Linked DNA regions of Homo sapiens: regions 1 and 3 are each linked to region 2. Evidence: fine-mapped QTL for protein levels in blood plasma. A gene starts in region 2. Each other region holds a variant in brackets. All regions are shown on one strand. Distances are between the middles of the regions.

The links. A credible set is the group of variants that fine-mapping cannot tell apart. PIP is the posterior inclusion probability: the model's chance that the variant is causal. The UK Biobank Pharma Proteomics Project read protein levels with antibody pairs (Olink). The fine-mapping took linkage between variants from a reference panel, not from the people measured, so its PIPs are less certain.
Region 1: its variant is the best candidate, but not a certain one, in a credible set for the plasma level of the DRAXIN protein (UK Biobank, PIP 0.76).
Region 3: its variant is the best candidate, but not a certain one, in a credible set for the plasma level of the DRAXIN protein (UK Biobank, PIP 0.73).

What each region holds. Positions count from the first base shown.
Region 1 is chr1:11,701,987-11,712,091 of GRCh38, forward strand. It overlaps DRAXIN (dorsal inhibitory axon guidance protein), which reads left to right. Exons shown (of 7, transcript NM_198545.4): 2 at 4,263-4,723; 3 at 7,289-7,479; 4 at 9,865-9,979. The coding sequence starts at 4,273. Among named protein-coding and RNA genes, the nearest start is that of DRAXIN, 15 kb to the left of the region's middle. RefSeq lists an enhancer at 2,294-2,921. The variant C/T (reference allele first, on the strand shown) is at 4,993.
Region 2 is chr1:11,686,162-11,696,266 of GRCh38, forward strand. DRAXIN (dorsal inhibitory axon guidance protein) reads left to right here and starts at 5,549. Exons shown (of 7, transcript NM_198545.4): 1 at 5,549-5,692. It also overlaps a transcript of MAD2L2 not described here. RefSeq lists enhancers at 3,847-4,356, 4,357-4,864.
Region 3 is chr1:11,744,738-11,752,737 of GRCh38, forward strand. AGTRAP (angiotensin II receptor associated protein) reads left to right here. Exons shown (of 5, transcript NM_020350.5): 2 at 1,066-1,100; 3 at 2,703-2,808; 4 at 3,678-3,873; 5 at 5,340-6,032. The coding sequence ends at 5,455. Among named protein-coding and RNA genes, the nearest start is that of AGTRAP, 13 kb to the left of the region's middle. RefSeq lists enhancers at 3,448-4,124, 4,125-4,801. The variant C/G (reference allele first, on the strand shown) is at 589.

The sequences.
Region 1 (10,105 bases), 16 kb after region 2:
CCCAGCCCCTCCTCCAGCTGACACACACTGTTGCACACAGTCCACACCCATGCTCACAAACATGCTTGTGCACACACATACGCTCACACATGCTCACAACACACATGCTCTCACACACGCGAGTTCACACACACATGCTCACACTCATACGTACACGCCCACACACATTCACGCTCACACATGCTGACAACACACATGCTCACACATACACACATGCTCACACACACCCATACATATGCTCACAACACATACACGCTCTCACACACACATGCACATACACACCCATACCCATACATATTCACACTCACATGCTCACAGCACACACACACGCTCACGCACATGCTAACACTCCCACACATACACTGACAACACACACACCTACACACCCACACATTCACGCTTACACATCATCACACACACGCTCACACATGTTCACACACACATGCTAACACTCCTACACACTCACAACACACATACATACCTACACACCCACACATATTCATGCTCTCACATGATCATAGTATACACACACATGCACTCACACATGCTCCACACACACACATGCTAACACTCCCACACACTCACTACACACCTACACACCCATACATATTCACGCTTACACATGATCATAGTACACACACACACATGCTCACACATGCTCCACACACACGTCATGCTCACACATACATGCCAGATGCTCACACACACACACTCACACATCCTGGGGATTTATTTATGATCTTCTGCCGAGGTATGAATTCTTTTTTTTTTTTTTCTTTTGAGTCTCTCTCTGTCGCCCAGGTTGGAGTGCAGAGGCACAATCTTGGCTCACTGCAACTTCCGCCTCCAAGTTTCAAGCAATTCTCCTGCCTCAGCCTCCTGAGTAGTTGGGATTACAGGCGCATGCCATCATGCACGTCTAATTTTTGTATTTTTAGTAGAGGCGGGGCTTCACCATGCTGGCCAGGCTGGCCTCGAACTCCTGACCTCAGGTGATCCTCCCACCTTGGCCTCCCAAAGTGCTGGGATTACAGGCATGAGCAACTGTGCCCGGCCTGATACATAAATTGGATTGTGCTCAATCCACTTCTGTTCTGATCCATGGCTACCAGCGCCTATTATGTGCAGGGCCCTGGAGGGGCCGCAGAGCAGAAGGGAATGTGCAGAGTCCTTTATGAGCTTCCAGTCTAGCCAGGGGCTCTAAAAAACCTGACGGTCCCAGCACAAAATGACACACGAGGTCTTCAAGAGCAGGACAAAGGCATGTGGGAGCACCAAGCGGAGAGCACATGGAGTCAGGGGACTGAACAAGGCTTCCTGGAGGAAGGGACATTTGGGTTGAGTCCCAAAGGATGGGCAGGACGTGGACGGAGAGAGATGAGGGAGAGGGGGAGAGGTTCCATGCAGAGGGGACAGGCAAAGTGAGAACAGAGAGCCAGAAAGCAGGGGTGTGTTTGGGGCCCAGGGAGCAGTCTCTGTTGCCTGTGAAGGGGAGAAAGTAGAAGTTGGAGCTGCAAAGCTTGGTTGGGGCCACATTACACAAGGTCTTCAGTGCCAAAGTAAGGAGTCTGTGGTTGCATGGGAAGGCAATAGGGAGCCATAGACAGTTTTGAGCAGATAAGGGTCACAACCCGAGTAGCCATACCACCAGTATATGCTGGGTCTGGGGACAGGATGGAGCCCCCTTGGATGCACCCCCATGGGTGCTCTGGCACTGTGCACTGAAATCCCACTTCCTCTGTCCCAGGCTGGCTGCGTGGGTGATATGTGGTTCTTGAAGGGTGGGAGGGAACAAAGATGGCATTCAGACTGGGGTTCCACTGGCCCTGAAGCAGGATGGGTACTGTGAATGGACCCACAGCCAAGTAGGGTCGTGGCAACGGAGCTTGGGAAGGTGGCAGTCTGGGTGGGATCATGCTGCTTCGGGGTGTTGGAGTGGGGCAGGAGTGGGAGTTCATCTCCTGGCTCTGCAGGGAAGGAGCTGTCCTCCAAGACCAGCACCTAGGCTGCTCACCAGGCTCAGAGGCGGCTCTGAGGTTTACTGACAGCCTTGTGTGTCCCCAGGGACAGCAGACTAGCTGAGAAGCTGCCCACCTCTCTACTGAGCCTCCTCTGCTCTCTTGCCCGCACTGTCTGGGTTTTCTTCCTCATTCCCCTCAACCCCCAGGACAAGGAGGAGGTGGTGATTCCTTTCATTGGCCAACGTCCCGAGGTTTCCCTGTCCCTAGGACGCTCTTCGGGCTTCTCCCAGGCTGTCATGTCCCTGCAGGACAGAAAGGCAGGGCTGGGTCTCGGACATGGACGGGATCCCATATGCGCTTGGCCTTTCCAGTCACAAGGAGAGCAGGGGGTGAAGTCTGGCAGTGGTCAGGCTAAATGCCAGCCCAGAGAGCAGCCCCGCTCCACTGGCCCCGAAGCAGGATTGAGGTTCCCTCTGCGCCGAACAATGCTTGAGTGACAGGCCTTTAAAATGGGCCCCTCCTCCCCCTGGGCTGCCTCAGGAACCAGGGACACAGGTCCCGCTTGCTGAGCTCTGGCCTCAAGAGCACTTGTTAGGGAAGGGCTGGAGGCAAGGCCAGTGGGACAGAGCCTTCCGTTGCTGGTGACGTGACCAGGACAGTAGCAGGGACTGTGGTGCAGGGTCTGTGGCCTTAGGAATGGATGCAGGTGTGATGGGAGACAGGGTTGTCACAACAAGCCTGTCCCAGGGTCCCACGCACGTCACCAAGGCTCACCTAGTATCTTCAGCCAGATCCCCGGGATAGGGGACAAGATGGAAAGTGACGGCCACCTCCTTGTCTCCATCCACAGTTCTAGGAAGAGCTGAGCTGTGGACAGTGGAGGCCAGGGCCCAGGATCCCAGGGGACCAGGACATGCCAGGCTGGGATGGAGGCAGAACTGGGTGAAGCCACCACAGACCCTGCGAGGCTGGAGAAGGTGTTTCCCCCCTCCCCTCCACGAGTGCGTGGTCAGAGCTTCGAGGGCACAGCAGTTTCCCTGCCCTACCACCCTCCCTCGGGGTCGGGGCTAAGGTGACACTGGGGTGGGCCAGCCAGCATGGGGGCCGCAGGGAGAGGCGCCGGGAAGCAGGGAAACATCACAGGCCCACCAACCTTTTCTCAGCCCGGGACAATTATATGGCCACAAATCACAAAGAAACGGTGGCGTAAGCACCCTTGCCAGCCTAGTGGAATACTCGGGAGGCCATAAAAATTCAATTAGCCTGGCTAACCTAGTGCCTAGCTCCAGGATACAGTGAGGTTGGTGCAATGGAGAGGGGTGCGTGGGGGAGCAGCTGCGGGTGGTGCACGGGGGCAGGAGGTCTCCAGAGTCTGACAGACGCCCCCACCATCCCCTGAGCTGCAGCTTCTCCCTCCAGTGTGGAGGGAGGGCACTGGGTCCCCTGAGGGGGATATCCTGAGGCTAGGTCGGGTTGGCTCAGTCTACCCTGCAGGGGTCAGAGCCAAGTCTGCAAAGCTGTTCCCAAAGCCCCTCCCCCAGGGGAAGGGACAGTGTCAGAACATTCTGGGGCCTCAGAGCTCATCATGAGAGGAGAAGAGAAAGGCAGAGCTGGGCCATCCTGGGACAGCCACACGGGGTTCAGGGCTCAGGGACAGGAATGACACAGTGCCACTTACTAGGTGTGACTTAACCTCTCTGAGCCTTCATTGCCACTTCAGAAAAATGGGGAAAATAACAGGAGCCATTTCAGAGAGCTCTTGAAAGGGCGAAGTGACATGAATTCACACAAAGCACTTAACGTGGGTCCTGCCTACAGCGTGCGCTCAAACGCTATTATTCCATTTGTATGGAATTAGGCTCCGAGTCAAGTCTCAGGGGCCAGAGGCATATTTCTGAGCTCTGAGGGACTCGGTTCCCTCTAGGGGACTTGGTAAGGGGCAGAGGTTTGTGCAGAGAAAGGAATTCTGGACTAATCTGGAACTTGAATGCTGCTGAAATGATTTAAGCCGGGGGTTCTCAGCCTCGGTACTGTTGTTTTTCTGGGCCGGATGATTCTTGGTTTCGGGGGCTGTCCTGTGCATTGTCGGGCGTTTAGCAGCATCCACGGGCTCCAACCTCTACCTGCCAGTAGCACTCCCCAGTTTTGACAACTAAAATATGTCTTCGGGCATTGCCAAATGTCACTGGGAGCAAAATGTCCCTCTATGGCTGTTGAGAAAAACTGGGCTTTAATCATTTGAGTGAGGGGCAGCAGAGAGAGGCCTGGGGCTGCGCATTCATGGTGTTGCTCTTCTTGCAGGGAGGAGCCAATGGCTGGGCCTGCCATCCACACCGCTCCCATGCTGTTCCTCGTCCTCCTGCTGCCCCTGGAGCTGAGCCTGGCAGGCGCCCTTGCACCTGGGACCCCTGCCCGGAACCTCCCTGAGAATCACATTGACCTCCCAGGCCCAGCGCTGTGGACGCCTCAGGCCAGCCACCACCGCCGGCGGGGCCCGGGCAAGAAGGAGTGGGGCCCAGGCCTGCCCAGCCAGGCCCAGGATGGGGCTGTGGTCACCGCCACCAGGCAGGCCTCCAGGCTGCCAGAGGCTGAGGGGCTGCTGCCTGAGCAGAGTCCTGCAGGCCTGCTGCAGGACAAGGACCTGCTCCTGGGACTGGCATTGCCCTACCCCGAGAAGGAGAACCGACCTCCAGGTTGGGAGAGGACCAGGAAACGCAGCAGGGAGCACAAGAGACGCAGGGACAGGTTGAGGCTGCACCAAGGTAGCTGGAGGGCTGCGAGGGGTGGGGATGGGGGTGATTCCTGCCATGGACTGAGGGGAGCAGGAGAGGATGCAGGCAAGGGTCAGGGGCATGAGGTCCAGAGGAGAGGAGGGGTCTCACTGAAGCCAGAGGGACCTGGTAAGGGGAGGAGGCTGGGAGAGGCCTGGGGTTGGGGCATGGGAAGAGGAGAGGGATGTGTTGCAATACAATCTGTCTTATCGCGGCCCGGTGCCGTGGCTCACGCTTGTAATCCCAGCACTTTGGGAGGC[C/T]GAGGCGGGCGGATCATGAGATCAGGAGATCGAGACCACGGTGAAACCCCGTCTCTACTAAAAATACAAAAAATTAGCCGGGCGCGATGGTGGGCGCCTGTAGTCCCAGCTACTTGGAAGGCTGAGGCAGGAGAATGGTGTGAACCCAGGAGGCGGAGCTTGCAGTGAGCTGAGATGGCGCCACTGCACTCCAGCCTGGGTGACAGAGCGAGACTCCGTCTCAAAAAATAATAATAATAATCTGTCTTATCAACAGATCATCCTCCTGAATCAGGAAGTTCTACCTTGTATCTGACCTAAATTTCTCCTACTTTAAGTTCTGAGTAGAAATGGAACAGTTCAGCGCCCTCCAAGCACATTTCTTACTCGACTCTGACGCATCCGGTAGGAGCTAAGAGCCTAGACTCTGAAGCCAGGTCTGCCTGAGATCAGGTCCTGCCTCCACCACTAGGGTGTGGCCCTGGGCAAGTTCTCTTTCTGTGCCTCGGTTTTCCCCTCTGTAAAGCAAGGAGACTGGTCCCATCCCATCTACCCTCAGTGTCGTTGCAGAGACTTGGTTAGTGGGGCGCTTGGAGCTCAGCTGGCAGGGCCATGAGCAGTCATTGTTCTGGTTAATCTCAGCCACCTGCTGAGGCCAACTCAGTGTCCTCCAGCCTGGACACAGGTGACTCCAGGAGAGGCATCGCTTGCCTACCGCTCCTGCCTCTGCCCTGTTTGTCTCAGTGCTCCCCTAGCCCTTCCCACCTTCCTTAACGTTTCCCCCACATCCGCTGGGAGCTAGCTAGCCCCCTGCTGGCCCAGGCTTCCCCCTCCCCGTGCCCATTCAGTCTCGGAGTAGACATGTCCCCTCAGCTCCAGTCAGGTGGCTCCTCCCAGCCTTGCCTGGCCCTAAGCCAGGGAACTTGGCTTCTAAGCTCTCCATGTGACCCGACTGCCTCTAGGGACATGCCGAGTGCCACAAATGCAGTGGTGACAGCAGGGTTCTTTGGCAGGAAGGCAATGGAGCTTCAACACCCCTTCTCGTGCAAACAGCTGAGGCTGGCTTCCCTGTGAGGCCTGAGAACCCCCCAAGAGGGCAGAGGTCAGTCAGGGTCCCCCGGCTTCGACTTTCAGCCTCCCACTCCTGGAGTTACCTGTGTCAGCTTTCAGGGGAGGATGCTGGGACCTTTGAGGACAGCTAGAGGGCACGCGTGGGGTGTGGACCCGTCCTGCTGGGCTCCGGCTCCGCCAGCTCCAGGGCTGCAGCCAGGCCTCCTGGGAGAGTTGATATGGTGAGGAGGAGGTGGGGAACGGAGAAGGTTTGCGGGCTAGGCCCTGCTCTGCTAATGACTGGCTGTGAAACCTCAGGCCAGGCTGGGCGTGGTGGCTCACACCTGTAATCCCAGCACTTTGGGAGGCTGGGCAGGCAGATCACTTGAGATCAGGAGTTGGAGACCAACCTGGGCAATATGGAGAAACCCCATCTCTATCAAAAATACAAAAATTAGCCAGGTGTGGTGGCGCATGCCTGTAATCCCAGTTACTCAGGAGGCTGAGGTGGGAGAATCACTTGAACCCTGGAGGCAGAGGTTGCAGTGAGCCAAGATTGAGCCCCTGCACTCCAGCCCTGCTGGAGCTGAATCCAGACCCTGCTACTCATGAGCTGTGCATCCTTGCGTGAGTCACCTAACCTCTCTGTGCTTCAGTTTCCTTCCCTGTAGATGAGACTGAAGGAGCACCCACTTCCCAGAGCTCTTGCAGTAGTTAGACGAAATAACACTTGTGACACAGCTCCTCTGGGACCCAGCACACAGCAGGTGCTCCATTAATGGGGTGATGACTAATTGTCACCACACAGGATGCACTCACTTGTGTGTGATAAGCAGTGATTCCCACCTCCCAGCTTCCTCAAAGGCCACTGCAATGATTCTCAGCCTCATGACATTTCTCCCTACTCAAACTTCACCTCCTCCAGGAAGCCTTCCATGGTTAATCCTACTAGTTCCTATTTGTTATACTTACATATCTGGCTGCGCCCAGCCAATCTGGACTTGGACTTGCTGGAATGTTGCTTTACAGGGAGAATCCTTGGACTGTCTCCCCAGCGACACTGCAAGTTCTTCCAAGACATTTTCCTCCGAGTTCCCATCCCCCAACCTCCCAAGAAGGGTAGGAAGCAGGAATGGGGGCTGAACCAAGGGCTTGTCACACAGTGCCTGCTGCCTCCTAGTTTGCAGCATAAAACGTGGGTTCTACTGTAGACTGCCACGAGGTGGCAAGCAGATATAGCCCCCGTGCTCCCCACCCTGTGTCTCAGGCCGAGCCTTGGTCCGAGGTCCCAGCTCCCTGATGAAGAAGGCAGAGCTCTCCGAAGCCCAGGTGCTGGATGCAGCCATGGAGGAATCCTCCACCAGCCTGGCGCCCACCATGTTCTTTCTCACCACCTTTGAGGCAGCACCTGCCACAGAAGAGTCCCTGATCCTGCCCGTCACCTCCCTGCGGCCCCAGGTAAGGGGTCCCCAAACAGCCTCGGATCTGGAAGGGTCCTTGAGCCCATGTCATGGAAAGCCCTCTTAATACATGTAGGGAGACTGAGGCACGGGGGCAGGAGGCCACAGAGCTTACTTAGATTGAAACCAGATCTCCTGCTGCCCATCCAGTCTAGCTCCAGCCCTGGTGGGTGCCCCATCCTGACAAGGGTCTGCCACTGTCCAGGGCAAAGTGCTCCTGGGGGCCCACTCTGGGGACAGCCAAGGAGGCAAGCGGTAGCTCAGCATGCTGGTGTCTGCATGGAGAGCAGCAAGGCCTGGGGAGGAGCTTTCTGTGTACAGAGGAGCATGAAGCATAATAATGGTGATTTTTAAAACTGTGTCGTCAAGACCCAGAATTAATAAGCATTAGCTAACACTTGGACCCATCTGCATCAGATCTTTAAAAAAGATATGTGGGCTGGGCGCGGTGGCTCATGCCTGTAATCCCAGCACTTAGGGAGGCCAAGGTGGGCAGATCACGAGGTCAGGAGTTCGAGACCAGCCTGGCCAACATAGTGAAACCCCATCTCTACTAAAAATACAAAAATTAGCTGAGTGTGGTGGCGCACGCCTGTAGTCCCAGCTACTCGGGAGGCTGAGGCAGGAGAATCGCTTGAACTTGGGAGGCGGAGGCTGTAGCGTGTCAAGATCGCCCCACTGCACACCAGCCCGGGTGACAGTGTGAGACTTTGTCTCAAAAAAAAAAAAAAAAAGAAATGTGGGGCGGGCACGTTGGCTCAAGCCTGTAATTCTAACACCTTAGAAGGCCAAGGCACGAGGGTCACTTGAGCCCAGGAGTTTGAGATTATCCTGGGCAACATAGTGAGACCCTGTGTCTACAAAACTTTTTTAAAAAATTAGACAGGCATGAGGGCATGTGCCTGTAGTACCAGCTACTTGGGAGGCTGAGGCAGGAGGATCGCTTGAACCCAGGAGGTCAGGGCTGCAGTGAGCCATGATTGCACCACTGCACTCCAGCCTGGGCGACAGAGTGAGACCCTGTCTCAAGGGAAAAAAAAAATGTGGAGAGAAAGTAAGCGGCAAATGTGGCAAAAACACTACCCACTGGTGATTCTGGAAGAGGGGTATATAGGAGCTGACCGCATCGTTCTTGCACCTCTTCTGTGGCTTTTAAAGGTTTTCAGGCCGGGCGCGGTGGCTCATGCCTGTAATCCCAGCACTTTGGGAGGCCAAGGCGGGCAGATCACAAGGTCAGGAAATCGAGACCATCCTGGCTAACATGGTGAAACCCCATCTCTACTAAAAATACAAAAAAAAAAAAAAAATAGCCGGGCATAGTGGCAGGCACATGTAGTTCCAGCTACTTGGGCGGCTGAAGCAGAGAATTGCTTGAACCCGGGAGGCAGAGCTTGCAGTGAGCCAAGATCACGCCACTGCACTCCAGCCTGGGCGACAGAGTGAGACTCCATCTCAAAAAAAAAAAAAAGGTTTTCAAACTAAAATTATTTAAAAGGATCAATAATATATATGTATAAAAAATACATAAAAAAGAAATAGGCCAGGTGCAGTGGGTGGCTCACGCCTGTAATCCCAGCACTTTGGGAGACCGATGCGAATAGATCACCTGAGGTCAGGAGTTCGAGACCAGCCTGGCCAACATGGTGAAACCCCGTCTCTACAAAAATACAAAAGAAATAAAGCTTTTTTAGCAGCAGATCTTTCTTATCCTTTTTTGGGGTCTTGCACCCCCTTGAGATTGTGATAAAAGCTGCAGACCATTTCCCAGGAATACATGGTTATCCGTCTTATCATCCAAGGCCCCCTGCAGGCCAGCCTAGAAGGTGCGGTTCCTGCCCATGCCCTAGTGCTCGCACATGCCCGTGTGTAGATCCAGCTATTGCTGAGGACCTCTAGCCCTCTGCATTCCTGGGGCCACTGGCCCAGGCTGTGAGTGGGACTGAGCCCTGGTTGTGGCCTCAATGGTGCCACGGATTGCTGGTAACCTCTGCAGAGAGAGGAAGGGATGGGAAAGTCCAGTGAGTGGCTGGGCTACTTCCAACACCCTCCTCGTGGGCTTAAAGACCCTGGGCAAGCAAGGTTGCCTTCCCAGCCTGCAGGTGGTCTCTGCCCCTCCTCAGAGGGCCTGGTAGGTAACTCACCTGTGTGTGTGTGCATGGTCCTTCTTGAGTAATGGCTGCACAGGAAGGAAATTACCTAGTGGCCACTGGAACAGGAGCCTCCGGCAGCCATCTTTATGTCCTTGGGCTGAGACTCCAGGCTGCCCAGCAGAGGATAAGGTGGCCTCTGAGAAGCCTCTTTTTTGTCCTCTGACCTTGGGACTCCACACTCCTGCTTCCATGGATTTGAAGGTTCCAACATCCCCCTTCTCCACGGTCTCCAGCAGGCACAGCCCAGGTCTGACGGGGAGGTGATGCCCACGCTGGACATGGCCTTGTTCGACTGGACCGATTATGAAGACTTAAAACCTGATGGTTGGCCCTCTGCAAAGAAGAAAGGTATGCCCACCTACCCCACTATCTTCCATGCCTGGGTGCCCTGCCCTCCCGCACCATCTGTTGAGGTGGGGGCCCCAGTGAGCCCTGTCTGATCTTCAGATGTCCAAAGGTGGGATGTGGGGAGAG
Region 2 (10,105 bases):
ACTCCCAAGGTGCCCTAGGGAGGACACGCATCATCACGGAACAAGATGCCTAAAGACAAGGACTTCCTGCTGACAGCTCCTCTCCGCTCTCATCTGCCTTCTGGTGTGAGGCCTGACCTGGACAGCTGTCCCAGATCCCAGGGTTCACTGCTGACCTGAGATGGCTTCCGACACTTCAGCCAGAGCAAAGCCCTCACCTGCCATTCCCTCCGTGGGGTTCTACTGATTCCCAGTGTTGCTGACCCCTCAGTGGTCAGGGGGACCTTACTGATCATCTGCTCTTTTTTCATAGAGACAGGGTCTCGCTGTGTTACCCAGGCTGGTCTTGAACATTTGGCCTCCAGAGTTCCTGCTTCAGCCTCCCAAAGCTCTGGGATTACTGGCATAAGCCACCGCGCCTAGCTAATTTTTTTGTACTTTTAGTACAGACGGGGTTTCGCCATGTTGGCCAGGCTGGCCTCGAACTCCTGACCCCAAGTGATGTGCCCGCCTCCACCTGCCAAAGTGTTGGGATTACAGGCTTGAGCCACTGCGCCCGGCCCAGAGACACTAAATGCCTTACACAACATCAGGAGTGTCCAGATATATTCAGAAGCCATCCTGGGCCACAAGGTAAGAACTTTTGATCCAGCTCAACTGCCACTTTAAAAAAAAAAAAAAAAAAAAAAAACTTCTCTGTGGAGATATAATTCACAAACCATAAAGTTCACATTTTCCCTGGGTACAATTCAGTGATTTTTAGTATAGTTACAATGTTGTACATCGCTACTCTCTAATTCGGAACATTTTCATCACTCCTGATGTCTTGAGAAGGGTTGTTCATGCCCAAAGTGTGTTGCCAGGTACATCAGTTCCAAAACTACTAATCTACTTTCTGTTCTATGGATTGTCCAATTTTTTTATTTTTTTATTTTATTTTTTGGAGACAGGGTCTCACTCTGTCATCTAGGCTGGAGTGCAGTGACGCAATCACAGCTCACTGAAGCCTCAACCTCCTGGGCTCAAGCGATCCTCCCACCTCAGCCTCCCCAATAGCTGGGGCTACAGGTGTGCACCATCACACCCAGCTAATTTTTATTTCATTTATTTCTTTTTTGAGACGGAGTCTCTCTCTGCCACCCAGGCTGGAGGGCGGTGGTGCAATCTCGGCTCAATGAAATCTCTGCCTCCCCGATTCAAGCGATTCTCCTGCCTCAGCCTCCCGAGTAGCTGGGACTACAGGCGACCTCCATCACGCTTGGCTAATTTTTAAATTTTTAGTAGACATGAGGTTTTGCCATATTGGCCAGGCTGGTCTCGAACTCCTGACCTCAGGTGACCCACCTACCTTGGCCTCCCAAAGTGTTGGGATGACAGGCATGAGCCACCACGCCCAGACTAATTTTTAAAATTTTCTGTAGAGAAGGGGTCTCACTATGTTGCCAGGCTGGTCTCCAACTCCTGGCTTCAAGAGGTCCTCCTGCCTCACCCTCTCAAAGTGCTAGGATTACAGGCATGAGCCACTGCGCCTGACCTGGACTTGCCAATACGGAACATTCCATATAAAAGTAATTGTACAAAATATGGTCTTTTATGTCTGGCTTGTTCCACTTAGCATAATGTTTTCAAGATTCATCCAGGTCGAATCACATATTGATACTTCATTCCTTCGTAGAACCAAAATACTCCCGTGTATGGATAGACCACATCTGCTTATCCAGTCATCAGTTGATGAATATTGGAGCCTGCTTTGGCCCCTCAAGTACCTCATTTTACAGACAAGGAAACTGAGGCCCTAAAGTCATCATAAACTGGATGGGATAGGAGTCCAGGCCTCTCCTAACATCCACCTTTTCATATTGTGTCACCCCAGCTCCAAGCACATCGGAAGATCACCCAGCCAGGGGACAGCCACAGTAGCAGCATTTGAACCAGAGACTCCAAGGTTTTTCTCCTGGCTCATGAATACTGGCCCACAGCTCTATCCTTGGCGACGCAAATCATGCTGGCTGCACACTGCCCCCTCTCCCAGGCCCAGGTGACCATCATCTCTTCTCTGCCACAGTACTTAGCTGGTCTCTTGCTTTCACCCTTGTCCCACTGCAGACTACTCCCAACCTTAGGAATCAGCACACGTGGCCGGGCACGGTGGCTCATGCCTGTAATCCCAGAACTTTGGGAGGCCGAGGCTGGCGAATCACCTGAGGTCAGGATATCGAGACCATCCTGGCTAACATGGGGAAACTCTGTCTCTACTAAAAATACAAAAAATTAGCCAGGCATGGTGGCAGGTGCCTGTAGTCACAGCTACTCAGGAAGCTGAGGCAGGCGAATCGCTTGAACTTGGGAGGCAGAGGTTGCAGTGAGCCAAGATCGCGCCACTGCACTCCAGCCTGGACAACAGAGCAAGACTGCATCTCAAAAAAAAAAAAGAAAAAGCAATCAGCAAACCTGCTAAAAACCTAAGTCGGATCATGTCTCTGCTCTGCTCATGGTCCCTCTAAAAAGCTCAAGTCCTCCCTGTGGCCTTTGCAGGCTCACATTGTTAGAGGTGTCTGAACCAGAGCAACCCCATCTTGAGTAGGGGCTGGGTCAAATGGGGTTGGGACTTGCTGGGCCATATTCCCAGATGGCTAAGGCATTCTAAGTCACAGTATGAGACAGGAGATCAGCACAAGATACAGGTCATAAAGACCTTGCTGATAAAACAGTTTGCAGTAAGGAAGCCTGTCAAAACCCACCAAAAGCAAGATGGCCACGAGACCAACCTCTGGTCATCCTCACTGCTCCACTCCCACCAGTGCCATGGCAGTTTACAAATGCCATGGCAACATCAGGACGTTACCCTATATGGTCTAAAAAGGGGAAGCAAAGGCCAGGCACACTGGCTTACCCCTGTAACCCTAGCACTTTGGGAGGCCAAGGCAGGCAGATTGCCTGGGGTCAGGAGTTCGAGACCCGCCTGGGCAACATGGCGAAACCCTGTCTCTACTAAAAATACAAAAAATTAGCTGAGCATGGCGGTGTGTGCCTGTAACCCCAGCTAACTGGGAGGCTGAGGCATGAATCGCTTGAACCTGGGAGGCAGAAGTTGCAGTGAGCCGAGACTGTGCCACTATACAAGCCTGGGCAACAAAGTGAGACTCTGTCTCAAAAAAAAAAAAAAAAAAAAAAAGGCTGGGTGCTGTAGCTCGAGCCTGTAATCCCAGCACTTTGGGAGGCTGAGACAGGTGGATCACCTGAGGTCAGGAGTTCAAGACCGGCCTGGCCAACATGGTGAAACCCCATCTCTACTGAAAACACAAAGTTAGCGGGCATGGTGGTGTGCACCTGTAATCCCAGCTACTCGGGAGGCTGAGGCAGGAGAATTGCTTGAACCCGGGAGGTGGAGGTTGCAGTGAGCTGAGATTGTGCCACTGCACTCCAGCCTGGGTGAGAGCAAGACTCCCTCTCAAAAAGAAAAACAAAAGGCGGGGGGAGGGGAGAAGCATGAATAATCCACCCTTTGTTTAGCACATCATCAGGAAATAACCATAAAAATGGGCAACCAGCAACCCTTGGTGCTGTGCTGTCTATGGAGTAGTCATTCTTTTTATTCCTCTACTGTCTTAATAAACTTTTTACTCTATGGACTCGCCCTGAATTATTTCTTGTGCGAGATCCAAGAACCCTCTCCTGAGGTCTGGGTCAGGACCCCTTTCCTGTAACAACATGGTCCTATCCCAGCTCCCTGTCTGATGTCACCTCACTCTGTTCCAGACTGACTCTTCTCCACCAAACACACCAAGCACACTCCCGCTCCAGGACCTTTGCAGTGGCTCTTCTGCTTGCAAGTCTTCTCCCCACAACCACGTGGCTCATTACCTCCTTTTCTTTGCCAAAAGAACTGCCCCAGCAAAGAGGCCTTTCCTAATAACTTTATGTAAAACAACACCTCGTCCCTTCATGCTTTGTCTGTAATGTGCTTTACTTTTCTTCATAGCACTAATCACCACCTGACATCATTTATATTTATTTGTTCACTTATCTTCTGTCTCCTTCACTAGAATCTGAGCTCCATGGGGGCAGGGATTCTTGTCCATGTTGTTTACTACTGTACCTCCGGTGCCGGCACATAGTAGGTGTTCAATAGGTATTTATGGGATGGATGACTCAAACCTTTCAGTGAATAAACAGTTCAGTGTTCTCATCAATCCATCCTGGTGCCCACCAAGCTAATAATATCACGGTAACAATGGCAGCTAATTTTACAGGAGCATTTCCTATGGGCCAGACCTTAGAAACGTTATCTCCTTACACAGGGCACTGCATTCACGCCTAGAACACTGAAATTTAGGTATAATCATGAGCTCAGAGGTCAGGCGACTTGCTCGAGGTCATAGGGGACGGCATCAGAAGAGGAACACAGACATTTAGCCTGACGGCAGAACTGTGTTCTAAAACCTCAAAGTCATAATTTGCCACACGCTGGAGAAAGAAAACAGTCGAAATGGAAGCCACCTGGCGAGCTCAGGGCGCCAGGTGGGAGCGCTGCTTCCCACATATGGGAGTCCGGCCCCATCGCTCTTTGATCTTTGCAGCGTCCGTGGCCCCACCGACCCCGTCGTGAGTTATGGGAGGCACGGGACCCATAACCCAGCATTCTCAGACTCCCAGGGTCGTCAGGACACGGCGCCCCGCGCGGTGATGGATGAGCCGGCCCCAGCGCTGGCTTTGTCCGGGTTGGGCCGGTCTGAGAAGCTTCAGGCCGGCTTTGGACGGGGCGTGGCGAGAGCCGCGCCGCGTGTGAGTGTGTGTGTGTGTGTGTTTGTGTGTGTGTGTATTGGGGCGGTTGTCTTTCTCCCTTCCCTACCGGGAAAGAGGGCACAGGTGCGCCGTCAGCGCCCCAGGTGAGCTGGTAGCACTTTGAAGACCCTTTGTACCCCTACATCCAGGAGCGACCTCTCGGAGAACCCCGCCTGCCCACTCTGCGCACTTTCTGCGGCTACAAAGGCCCCGCCGTTCCCCGTCCCGCCTCCCCCGCCCTGGGCATTTCTTCCGTCCCTTTTGACAGTCTAGGCGGAATAATCCTTTTGTGGCCCCGGGCCCCTGCCCTGACAGACGCGGCCGCAGCTGAGCGCGCAGCCTCGCTCCATTGTTGGGGTCCACCGAGGACCGCCCGCCGCGGCCCTTTGTCGCCCGCCCTGCGCGGGGCCGCTCCAGAGGCGCCACAACTGCCGGAGCCCCTCCCGTCCCACGCGCCCTGGGCCGCGCCGAGGCGGCTCTTACGCACCGGGAGGAGTGGGCCTGCCTCGCCCGGTGCCCGCACGGCTGCTGGGCTGCGCCCGCCTTTGTCTGCCTCCTTTGTCTGCCCCGCGCCCTCGCGGCGGCGGCGCCTAGGCCTCTGGGGAGCTGGCCCAGAACTCAGAGCGCAGCTGGCGAGGGCGCGCTGGCCGGGTGCGCGCCGGGCCCGGCCCCGGGGCTGCCCCTCGGCTGGGGGCAGTCGAGCCCGCCACCCGCCGCCCCTCCTCTGTCCCCTCCCCGCGCTCCCGCCCCCTTCCCTCCTGCCCGCCCACTCCCCCTTCCTTCCAGTCCCGCTCAGCCCGGGCACATCCTCCGGCTGCCCGCGCACCTCTCCACGCCGGCCCCGTTCCGCGGCTCGCCCTCGGCTGCGCTCGGCTCCCGCGGGCGCTCGGCCCCGAGCCCCTCCTCCCCCTACCCGCCGGCCGGACAGGTAAGGCACGGCCTCGGCCCGCCCCTGGCTCCGCCCCTCCCGCCCCACCTGGCTGCGAGCCCGGACAAAGGTGGGCTACCTGGCGCGCCCAGGGGCGGGGTGCGCGGGGTCCCGAGGCTGGAAGTGAGGATGCTGCCTCCTTCCCAGCCCTCGGACCCGTCTATCCGCCAGTCCTTCCGCCGCCTCCTCTCCTCGCCGCGTCTGCCCACGGACCCTGGCTCTGCTCCCGGGCTCCCCATCCGTCCACCTACCGCTGGACGCCCACTTTTCCACGCTCTGACACTCGGCCTCGCGCGCGCCCTCGCCGCCCTCTGGGGTCCCGGCTCGCACCTACTCTCCTCGGCACTAGCCTTCTCTCTCCCTGACCCAGTCTCCCTTTGTCTCTCTGTCTCTGAGTCTCCGGGTGGTCTCTCAGGCAGGGGGCCCCAGTCCGCCACCGTTGGAAGAAGTCTTCGAAGACTCCCTGAGCCCCGGGCAGAGCTGGCGGGCGTGCCCTCCAGCCCCTTTCGAGGCCGCCCAGGAGGCTGGGGTGTGTGGCCGGGGTCGCTGAGTGCGCCCGGAACCAGCACCGCCGGTGGCCCCGCGCCGTCCCATCTGTGCCCAGGAAGGTACTCAGCCTGGCTCCCCCGACGGCGCTGGTCTTTCGCCTGTGGTCTCCCGCTCTGTCCCTCCTGCTCCCCACCGCCGGCTTTTGGCTTTTCTCCGTCCGCTCGTCAAGGGTCTCAGCCGCCTTCGGGGCCGGGGTATGAGATGAGAGAGGGCTGGGGTTTCCCGCCAAGTCTTTCTTGCTTTCCTCAGCTGGGTGCTCCCTGGGCCATCCTCTCCGCCCGGTGGTCTCCCCTGCCCTATATGCTCCCTCCACGCTGCCCACCTCCCAGCCCAGTGACACACTGGTGTCTGGAACCGGTTCAGTACTATGCATCTGGAGTCGGGTACACTGGGGCTCTGGGAGTGATCTCGGACAAAGGAATGCACCTCTCTGAGCCTCAGTGTTCCTGTCACAAAACAGGGATGGTGCTAGTCCCTACCTATAGGGATGTGTGTGGAAATTGTGGGGTGCCGCTTGGTGCTGGTTCACACACCCTGTGGAGGAAGGGAGGGGAGGGGAGGGGAGTCTACAGACCTGGGATGGGGTGGGGACAGGGGGCTCCACAGAAATGGATCTCAAAGTCAAGGCTTAGAGACACTTCAGAGTAACCCCACCACCACAGCCTCTTCCCCCATCACACTTCCTGTCACCTTCACCTCCTCGTGCCCATACAGGCGTCCACACCCTTGCAAGCACTCTTCTCTTTCTCTCTCTCCTCCTCTTTGCTTGTCCTAAAATCAGCTAAAACAATCAGGGCCAATGGGTCACTTTTTTTCAAAATGAGATCAGTGTGGCTGAGCTGGTGTTGCCAACAACTGATCACCCATCAGAAGGCGTCCGGTGACTCACCCCCAATTCTGAACCTCAGTCTTGGCTTGATGCCTTTAATAGCGGCACCAGCTCACAGGCCACTTCCTTTCCTCTGAGGGGATTGTCTTGCTGGCTCCTGGACCTGCTGTGTGCTTGCCCAAGCCCCCTGACCACTGTCTAGGTGGTCATAACATGTGACACACCACTCCAGGAGTCTGGCAGTGACGTGGCCTGAGTGTCTTAATGAGGGCAACTTCAGAAGAGGGAAACCTCCCAGCTGGCAGGTTCCAGGCTCCCCTGGCTGAGTTCTTATTTCAGCCACAGCCAGGGCTGGCAACTGGAACCTTTCTCTTTAGAGGCAAGAACGGCTGGATATCCCCACGACATCCCCCATCCAGGCTCCTGCTCGAAATCCGACCTGGCAGACAGGCCCTACTTTGGTGAACCCGGCCCTTCATACCATCTCTACCCCCTGCCTTCTGCAGCAAAGCCAGCTCAGAGGCTTGGGAACCTTGCTCAGGTCCTCTCTGCTCTCTCCGCTGCCTTCCTCCCCACTATTCAATTCATCGCCCTCCCAGTCCATAGTCCTCAGTGGCTCACTGTGGCCACTCAGTTAACTACAGAGACCTCAGCCCAGCCTAGCCCTGTCCTGCCTGCCTCCCAGCATTGTCCCCTCTGCGTCCCAGGTTGCAGCCACGATGGAGAACTGACCATCTCCACAGTCTGCCCTCCTCTGAGCTTTTGCTAGGGCTCTTTCTGCCCTGCCCTGTGTTTGATCTCAGCCCTCTGTCTTTGCTGACCAAGGAGGTCTGATGTCCTCTCCTGTGGGAAGCACCCCGGCACTCCCTTGCCTCCCTAGCTCTTGTGAACTGCACGGCATAATCCCTATCTGGGAGGGGTCTGCTCCTCCCTGGGTGGGGGCTGGGTCTCCTTCTGCTTGTGGTCCCAGTGCCTGGCACGCAGTAGGGGCTCTGTGCACACCTGTTATATTGAATGTGATTCCTGGTCAAAGGCACAGGAATGAACTGAAAACTGCAAGCCCCAGTGTCTTGCTGAGTTCTGCTGGGTCCTGCTGGTGGGGCCAGGGCGGAGCTGGCCCTCTGGCTGGGGAGGTTGGAGGGGGAGCAAGCTGCCCGGAAACCCCTGTGATACTGAGGCCCTGTATCACTCTGGAAAATGAGGGTGGTCTCTGTGCCTGTTATAGGGGTAGAAACTGAGACCAGAGAACGAAGTGGCTCACCCCAGCCGTGCAGATTGGGTTTGAAGCCCAGCTGATCACTTAGCAGCTGTGGGACCCAGAGGGAGTTCCTTCACGTGTGTCGGCCAGGAATGTGATGGAGCAGGGACTTGCATCCCAGCCTCCCCGAACTTCCCTCAGAGGCATGAGCATGTTCCTGGGGGGCAGGTCATAGGAGCACCCCTGTTCTGGCCCAGTGGGTTGGAGCTGCCTCCCTCTTGCTCCGCTGGCCCTCTCTGCATGCCCTACTCCAGCCTTCCTTCTCAGGGGTGAGTCGCTGTGGCCAGTGGTCCCCAAGAAGAAGAAGGTTGTGGGAGGATGGCTGAATCCTTGCCAGTAGAGGCTCTGCCACCCCAGGTTCCAGCTTGACAACGCCCCATGCCCCAACACCATGACCCACCCATGCCCCAACACCAAGACTTCTCTTGATGGGATGGGGTTGAAGGGGTGGTTATGAGGGATGAGGCTCCTGCTAGAACCCAGAGCAACTGGAAGGAGCTCATTGCAGGACTTAATGGTTTTCAGGTGTACCAGGCTCTGGGTCAGGCCCCAGCTCATGCCACCTTCCCTGGGACTCACAGCAGCTGCACTGGTGTTGGTTACTGGATGGCAGCATGAGGAGCAGTCTCGGCCAGGAATGTGATGGAGCAGGGATGATGAGTCTGAGGAGTCAGATGGCTGTGGGTTCGAATCCCAGCTCTATCACTTGCTCTACTAGGCTATCTTAGGCAAGTCCCTTGGTCATTGTCTTAATGTTCCTACACAGCCATTGTTGCTATTACCATCTGAAAAATATTATCCACTTCAGGCCAGGTGCAGTGGCTTATGCCTATAATCCCAGCACTTTGGGAGGCCGAGGCAGCTAGCTCACTTGAGGCCAGGGGTTCGAGACCAGCCTGGCCAACATGGTGCAACCCTATCTCTACTAAAAAAAAAAGATACAAAAATTAGCTGGGAAGTGTGGTGCACGCCTATAATCCCAGCTACTTGGGAGGCTGAGGTAGTAGAATCACTTGAACCCAGGAGGCACAGGTTGCAGGGAGCAGAGGCTGCAGTGAGCTGAGATTGCACCACTGCACTCCAGCCTGGGCAACAGAGTGAGATTCTGTCTCAAAAAAAAAAATATATATATATATATATACTTCAAAGGGTCAAGTTAAATAATGCCTATAAAGCTCTGGGCCTAGAACCTAGAACAGTAGATGATACCCAAACAAACACAGAGCTAAATGGTCTAGGTACCAAGATAATGAAGTTTGAGGAATATGGAGGCTGAGGGTTGCTTCCCCCACCCACAAATTGCCTAGGAGAGGAGGAAGAGGGGCCACAAGTACCTATAATCTAGCAGGAGGTAGGACTCGAGTTCAGCAGGTGAGCGGGGAATGCTGGAAGCTGGAGGCCTTTGAATGGGTGGGGCCTCTGATGAACTCCCGCAAAGCCCCTGTACAGGTTTTTAAGGTGTGAGGTCTGGGGTGGGTTGAAAATCCCAAGGCTGCTGTCGGAAACAATAAAAGCAGATGGAGCTGCCCCTGCAGGGAAGCCAAACCTCATTTGCCAGGACAATGGTCCCCTCCAGGCTGGCCTAGGACAGTCCTGCCCTGCCATCGATCACCCCACTGAGGACAGAGGACGCAGCCACCTGCGCCTGCCCCTTTGCACACCCAGGCACAGATGCACAAATGCTTCCAGGAAACTCCCTGGCCCCCACCACACCCATGCCTGCCACCTTACTCCCTCTGTCTCCCCTTCCCATAGTAACAACTACTGTTTATTTCAC
Region 3 (8,000 bases), 58 kb after region 2:
ATAGAGTAAAGTGAAAGCAAGTTTATTAAGAAAGTAAAGGAATAAAAGAATGGCTACTCCATAGGCAGAGCATCCCTGAGGGCTGCTGGTTGCCCTTTTTAAAAAAATTAATTAATTAATTAATTTACTTATTTTTGAGATGGAGTTTCTCTCGTCGCCCAGGCTGGAGTGCAATGGCACAATCTCGGCTCCCTGCAACCTCCACCTCCCAGGTTCAAGCAATTCTCCTGTCTCAGCCTCCTGAGTAGCTGGGATTACAGGCACACACCACCATGCCCGGCTAATTTTTGTATTTTTAGTAGAGACAGGGTTTCACCATGTTGGCCAGGCTGGTCCTGAACTCCTGACCTCAGGTGATCCACCCACCTCGGCCTCCCAAAATGCTGGGATTACAGGTGTGATCCACCGCGCCCAGGCTGGTTGCCCATTTTTATAGTTATTTCTTGATAGTATGCTAACCAAGGGGTGGATTATTCATGCCTCCCCTTTTTAGACAATATAGGGTAACTTTCTGACGTTGCCATGGCATTTGTAAACTGTCATAGTGCTGGTGGGAGTGTAGCAGTGAGGACAACCAGAGGTTACTCT[C/G]GTGGCCATCTTGATTTGGGTGGGTTTTAGCCGGCTTCTTTACTGTAACCCGTTTTGTCAGCAAGGTCTTTATGACCTGTACCTTGTGCTGACCTCCTGTCTCATCCTGTGACTTAGAATGCCTTAACCATCTGGGAATGCAGCCCACTAGGTTTCAGCCTTATTTTACCCAGCTCCTATTCAAGATGGAATTGCTCTGGTTCATACGCCTCTGACGCTTGGAAGGGGTGTGGGTGTCAGCTGCCCCATGGGAGGGGTGAAGGCATGAAGCGGCCCCTCCCTGGCCTGGCCTGCTTTCTTCCTCCTCCTTCACTCCTGGGCCACCTGCAGTTGCTGGTGTGCCTTTTCAACAGACATTACTGAGGCCCTCAGAGGTGCCAGGCGCAGGGGCGTCCTGTGTTTTCTGCACCCGACGCTTTCCTGCCCCTGTGGTGGTCATGTTCACAGACCTCTTCTCTCCCCCTTGTTGTGCCACAGGTGATTCTCCTAGGTCACTGGCTGCTGACAACCTGGTAAGTGACTCTGTGGGTATCTTGTGTGTCTCCTGCGGTCTCAGGGTCTGTGTCAGCCGGGTCAGGTCCTGGTTCTGCCGTGTTTTAACCAGGTCACTTTGGGCCAGACAGCTCTGCCTCTCCGGGTCTTGATTTCCGTCTGTACAATAGGCATAAGGATTGCACACCCTGCAGGAGCTGGGAGGGAGACGTGGAAGTGCTCATCAGAGCTCCCCAGGGCCTGCCCCACAGTGAGGCCTCAGCACTGCAGCTTGATTTTCACCTTTACCATCTCTTTTAATCTGTTGAGCTTCTGGAGACATTTCTCTGCCAAACCAAGACTGGAAACCATTGAGCTCACCTGTGCACTTTGCAAACTTCGAAGTGCAGCGCACAGGGCAACAGCTGTGAGTAATGTGAACTGTAACCATCATGATTCACGACCTTGAGAAGCAGGGCCAAAATACAGATTTCTTAGTCACACTTCCCCAAGATTCTGAGTTGGTGATTCTGGGCTGGGACCCAGGCACCTGCTTTCTTAAAAGCAAAAGATAAGATGGTTTATTCAAAGACCTATTGAACCGAATGGCACTCCACACCTGCCTTGCACATGTCTTCTGCATGTTACACTTTAGTGAATGTCCTATAAATCTAGGAAGCGCCCGCTGCATGCAGGGGAAGGCAAGGCCCAGTGGGTTTGGTAATAAATGAGGTAGACTCAGTCCCTGTCCCCCTGAGTCTTCCTTGCAGCACAGCAGGGTGAGCAAGAGCATGGCCTCTCCAGCCAGACTCCAAATCCCAGCCCCACTGCTCAGCAACTGTGTGACCTTGGGCGAGTTACTTAACCTCATTGTGTCTCAGTTTCCTCATCTCTAAAGTGAGGGTAACAATAATACTTCCTTCCTATGGTTATTAACATAAATGTACATGAATGAGTTAATTTAAAACAGAACCATGCTAGGTACTAGCAAGTGATCGGTGTTCACTATGATTTTGATTGGATTGACAAGTAAGTCAACAATGTCAGTATCAGTACCCTAAAAATAGAATAGGGCGGGCCTTGTGTTAGGAAAGTGACGAACTTGTACTTAGCACCGGTGGGCAAGGGAAGGAGTCTCAGGGTGAACATTCGAGTCTCAGGGTGAATGACAAAAGGAGGGCCAGGTGTCAGGGTAGAGGGCGCCCGCCGCACAGGGCAGTGGCTGGGAGGTCAGTAGGGCGAGGCTGTGTCCGGGATCCCACAGGCCCCTTAGGCCCTGGTGAAGAGTCTGCATTTTATTCCAAATGGGACAGAAAACTGTTGGAGGATTTTTAGCAGAGGAGTGACAGCATCTGACTACGTTACCGGTTGCTGTTTAGAGAACAGAGTGGCAGTCAGGACGCTGGCACAGGGTGGCTGCGGCTGTCATCTGCCAGGAGAGGGAGGTGCTTTGGATCTACAGGGACACAGCCAGATCCAGGGTCTGGGTGGGAGGCGGAGCCCATGGGATTTGCTGGCACACAGCCGGGTGGCCTCGAAGACTATGGCATGTTCTGGGAGGAGGCCCTGAGACGCCGGAGCAGGAGGGAGGTGACCTGCGGGGTGGTGGCCTCCTGACGGGACTGAGCTACCTCTTCCTACAGGGGCTGCATTGTATTCTCAGGCTCCTATGCCTGGGCCAACTTCACCATCCTGGCCTTGGGCGTGTGGGCTGTGGCTCAGCGGGACTCCATCGACGCCATAAGCATGGTGAGCCAGGGTGGGGGAGAGGCGGCAAGGCGGGGAGCCGCAGCACAGGGCAAGACATAGCCTGGCTCTGCTACCCCGTCCCATCCCAATCTTCCCCCTCTTCCTTGGGCCACCACTTCCCATTGTCTAAAGCCTGTTCATCAGCCTCCTGGGCTCCGGCCCATGCCTGTGTTCAGGAGCCCAGCCTGCTGCTCTTCTTGTCTGGCTTAGAGAACCCCAAGTCTGCCATTATCTCCCTGAGGAAAGCCATGGGGTGGGTCCCACCAGTGCCTCGGATTAGCCACTTCGCAAGAGCAGTGGAACATCCCCTGTAACCTCCCTCTGCGGCTCTCTTTTAGGGGAGGGGATATGGCTGGGAGACCCGGCCAAGAGGGCATTTCACTACTTTAGGAAGTAGAGGTGACCCTGCCCCACCGAAACCTCCCACAGGGGGAGCTTCTCAGCACCCACGGAGCCCCGTGGGGCAGTGAGCACTCCCGCACGGGCTCTTCAAGCCGAGGCCAGGGCCTCAGGATGACTGAGAAGAGATTTTCTTTGTGTTGGAGAAGGACTGGGTGAACTCCAAGGAACCTTCCTCTATGGAGGTTCTAGAGCCAAGTCTTGTGCCCATCATGGCCTTGGAGATGACGGGAAATGGGTGGGGAGGGAGGCTCTGGTGGAACCGAGACCTGGGCCCCCGGCATCCCTGCCCCCAGACTGCAGTCTCAGCCAGCGGCTCCCCAGCGGGGCCCTGCCTGCTTGCTTGATCCATTTTCCCGCAAGCCCCAAGGACACAGCAGGGCATGAAACGGCTTCCCATCCGGTGTGTGGCGGGGGAGCCACGGAGCGTGGTGGGGGTGTTGTGCTCATCAGTGTGGTGTGTCTTGCAGTTTCTGGGTGGCTTGCTGGCCACCATCTTCCTGGACATCGTGCACATCAGCATCTTCTACCCGCGGGTCAGCCTCACGGACACGGGCCGCTTTGGCGTGGGCATGGCCATCCTCAGCTTGCTGCTCAAGCCGCTCTCCTGCTGCTTCGTCTACCACATGTACCGGGAGCGCGGGGGTGAGCTCCTGGTCCACACTGGTGAGGCCACCACCTCCAGCCAGCTCCTCACCGCTCCCTTCTCTCCCTTGCCTGGCCTCCAGCCTCTCCCTCAGTGAGCCAGCCTTGCCCCATGGGGCCAGGGCTCAAGGTGCAGGGAGAGCGTGGCATGGGCGCTCTGTACTAGGCTGGACAGGTCCAAGCTCCTAGTCTCTGCTGCAGGAGCCCAGGGGTCCCCTGGTTGTCCTGGTCTGCCGTGACCTTCTTCTGCTGTGAAGCTGAGGCTGGGCCCTTCTCTCAGCCCAGAACACAGGCACAGCTGGGGGTACCATTTAGTTCCCAGGGGCAGCCCTGGGCTGTCTCCATCCTGAGGGCCACGGGCACCTACAGGTCTCCTCTCTGTTCTCACCGGGGCCCATCACTGGAACCCCATTTCCTGCCACATGGGGTCTTCCCTCTCCTGCTGCAGAGACTGCTAGGTGGCCAGGGCAGAGCCCGTGCCAGTGTAGGCTGTGGGAGCCTCAGTGAAGACAGCCCTGAACAGGGGGCACTTTCCCTGCCCACCGGCCCCTCCCCACTCACCCAGCCTTACACCTGCCCTCTCCCACGCCCTCTCTGAACTCCTGTACTCCTTCTCCTGGTGGCCGAGCCATTTGCCTGCTCTCTGACACCTCTCTCTCTCTTCCTTTCTCTCTCTCTTTGAGAGGAGTGGAGGGAGGTGGTAGGGTGTGGCCTTCTGCCTTTCACTCCTGAGATGAGATGCCCCACGTGGCCTGTGACTGCCACCAGCTGGTTGAGGGTGGGAATGGCCTGGGGCTGCCCACAGTGGCTGACCTCAGCACTGCCTGGGCCTGCCCCCAGGTGAGGGGTGCCAGAATGTTTCTCCCATTGGACAGATGAGGAAACTGAGGCCCACATCCTTTGGGACTTGTTCAGGGTCCCGGGATGAATGTACAGAGTAGGGGATGGGAGTGAGGCATGTGGCGTACTCGGAGCCCTACGGCCCTGCCTTGGACCCAGCCCCAGCCTCCGAGGCCATCTGGATATGGTAATGTGGTGTCCTTGTACCTGGGAGGGGAGCTGGAGAGGAGTGCGTGGGCCCGGGGCTGATGTCCCTCTGCCCAGGTTCCTAAGCACGTGCTGCCTGGGGAAGCCCATGGCACAGGGGCCAGGAGCCTGGCTTTGGACTCGGCTGCCTAGGCGTGGGTCCCAGCATCATCAGCTTTGAGCTGTGTGATCTCGGGCAAGTCACTTCATCCCTTTGACCCACAGTCTCCTCATCTGTAAAGTGGGGACAATAAAAATACCCGTCGCACAGGGATACGGCAGGATTGAATGAATAATACACGCTAAAGGTTTAGGGCCTGGGGCTGCTGCCTCTGTCTCTGTGCATGGTGTCAGGATGCCCAGCCCGAGGGTGGCGGGGGTGGATCTTGGGTTGGACTCAGCTGAACATCCCGAGTTCTCACCCTTCATTTTTCTTTCCCACCATGTCCCCTGTCACCTAGGTTTCCTTGGGTCTTCTCAGGACCGTAGTGCCTACCAGACGATTGACTCAGCAGAGGCGCCCGCAGATCCCTTTGCAGTCCCAGAGGGCAGGAGTCAAGATGCCCGAGGGTACTGAAGCCAGCCACGCTGCGCCCGGCCCTGCCCCGGGCCTTCCTCGTGCCTGGGAGGTCGTTCTAGGGATGCTCCTGACCTCCGTCTCTTGGACCTAAGATGGAATGTGTCCCCAGCTCAGGGATTGCCTGAACCAAGAGGCCAGGAGCCCCCATGGGCCGCCCAGTACCATGCACACTCCTGTCCCGAACTCCCTGAGGCCTCCCCTCCCTTCAGGGCACCCACTGGTTCCCAGGCTGGAACCAGGGTCTCTCTTTACCTCCTACCCCATGGTGGCACCACAGAGGCCCTCAGCCGAGTCCTGCCTGAGTGTTGCAAGCTCAGGCCTTTAAGGACTGCTGATGCCCCCTCAGGCCTCCCCCAAGTTTGCTGGGCTTTGGTGGAAGCCCTGAGAGCTTCAGGTCCTGCTCAGCCCGAGGAGCAGTCTGGCATGGGAGTGAGGCCCCGTCCTTCTCACTGCCTGGTCACATGGTGCCTAGGGATGCAGGGCTGGAGGCCAGAGGTGTCAGCAACACTGTGTCCCACCACAACCTCCAGCCTCCCTTTTCAGAGCACAGCATTAAAGTTTGGGGAATTCTGTAGATGGGCTGTGTTTTGAACCACCTTCAATCTCCTGGCTGGGCTGGGGCCTGGCCTTGTTCCTGGGAAGATGTCTCCTGCCAGTTCCCAGGTGGAGCCTGTGCTGTGCTGCCCCATTCTGTCATGGCAGGAGGAAACAGGCATGTGCGTTGGCTGAGCTGGGCTTGAGCCTGGCTCTGGCCTAGCAGAGGCCACAGGAGAGAGAGACACTGGTGGGTGTGGTGCGTGGGCATCCGTTTCTCTGAACCAGATGACCCAGGCACTCTTTGGAATCCTGCTCTGCCACTTACTAGCTGCATGCCTTCAGTGTCTTCTAGAAAGGGTTGGTGCCTGCTCCAGGTGTGAAGTGCCTGGCGTGAGGAGGGCTCCCTAAGTGATGGTGAACTTGTTAGCAGTGGACCTGCTCCTCAGGCCAGTGACGATGCTAGGTTAGGAGGCAGGGGCGACCTCTTCCTGGTAGCCCCTGTGTCTGGTCACAGCTGACTTGGGCTGACACGTCCAGAAGTTCCCCAGGGCCTCGGCCCACCCCACGGACAGGTCTAGCTATTCACAGCTTGCTCTTCTGCCCCCTGGGCACCAAGTGCCAGGGCTTTCCCAGGCCATCCTGGCTTGTCCCTGGCACAGGGTCAAGGCCTAGTGCACAACTCCCATTATTCTCTTGCGTCCATCTGTCAATCAAAAGAGGCTCAGTACCTGCCTGGTGCCGAGCGGGCTTGGGGCTGCAGTGGTGACCTTGGGAGCCTGCTCTCAACCTAGGAGTCTTCCCACCTGGAGGATTACAGACAGAGGCAAGAGCCCCGAAAGAAGAGGACATGGGCCTCTGGGTCAGGGAGGAAGGCTGCTGTGGGGAAGGGGCTGTGCTCCGGGCAGAGGGCTGCTGAGCAGCTGCAGTTGTGAGAAACTGGAAACAGCCTCACTGTCGGGAGACGGACCAGTAAGCCACGGTCCATTCATTACAGGGAGTATGGACCAGGAAGCCACAGTCTATTCATTGTAGGGAGTATGGACCAGGAAGCCACAGTCTATTCATTGTAGGGAGTATGGACCAGGAAGCCACAGTCCATTCATTGTAGGGAGTATGGACCAGTAAGCCACGGTCCATTCATTATAGGGAGTACGGACCAGTAAGCCACGGTCCATTCATCGTATGGAGCACAGTGCAGCAGTTACAGCTGTTAAACCAGACCTATTTCCACCAACGTTGGCCCCCCGCAAATGTGAACAAAGCAGATTGCAGAATGGCATTGGGATGAATTTTCAGACCTCACAGCAATGCCATATGTTGTTCCTGGGTGTATGTGCGGTAAAATAGAAAAGCATGGACTAGAAGGACACCTGTCAGGTTCATGACTGTAGCCACCCTGGGTGGAGGAGGAGCGTGACCCGAGGGGAATGGGACTAAGACCCAAGTCCGTTTATCTTGTGTATACAGCATCCTGGCCCCGGGAAGGCTTGTGTACCTGCGTCGTGAACGTGTCAGATTCCCAAAGGGAATGAAAAGCCAGGGCAGGGGCTTGGCCCAGGCAGTGGGGGCAGATGATGCAGCCTGGGCCACGCACAGGGGAGTGTATCTAGACACCTCAGTCCCTCATCGTCCCAGACCCCCAGGTTGAACCGGCTCTTTGCGGGAGAGGACAGAGGAAAGCTCCTGTCTCAGAGTGTACCCCAGAAGCAGAGCCTGCGATGAAAGCAAGGGTGCCAGGCTTTCCAGTCATTGGCTAGGAGCTGCTCAGGGAGTGGGAGAGGGTGGCTTAGATTTGCAGGCACTGTGCCACCCCCCGACTGTGCAGGCAGTCGGGAGCCGGAGGGCCATCAGAGGCAGACAGAAACGGTGGAGGAGGCAACCATGTGGCTGCCCCTTCCACACAGCGGCCTTAACAGGGAGAGCTTCTAACATACAACAAGCGCCCCAGAGCCCACTGTGAGTGAGGCCGTGTTCCAGAGGCAGGGGATGCCAGGGTGCGGGAAAA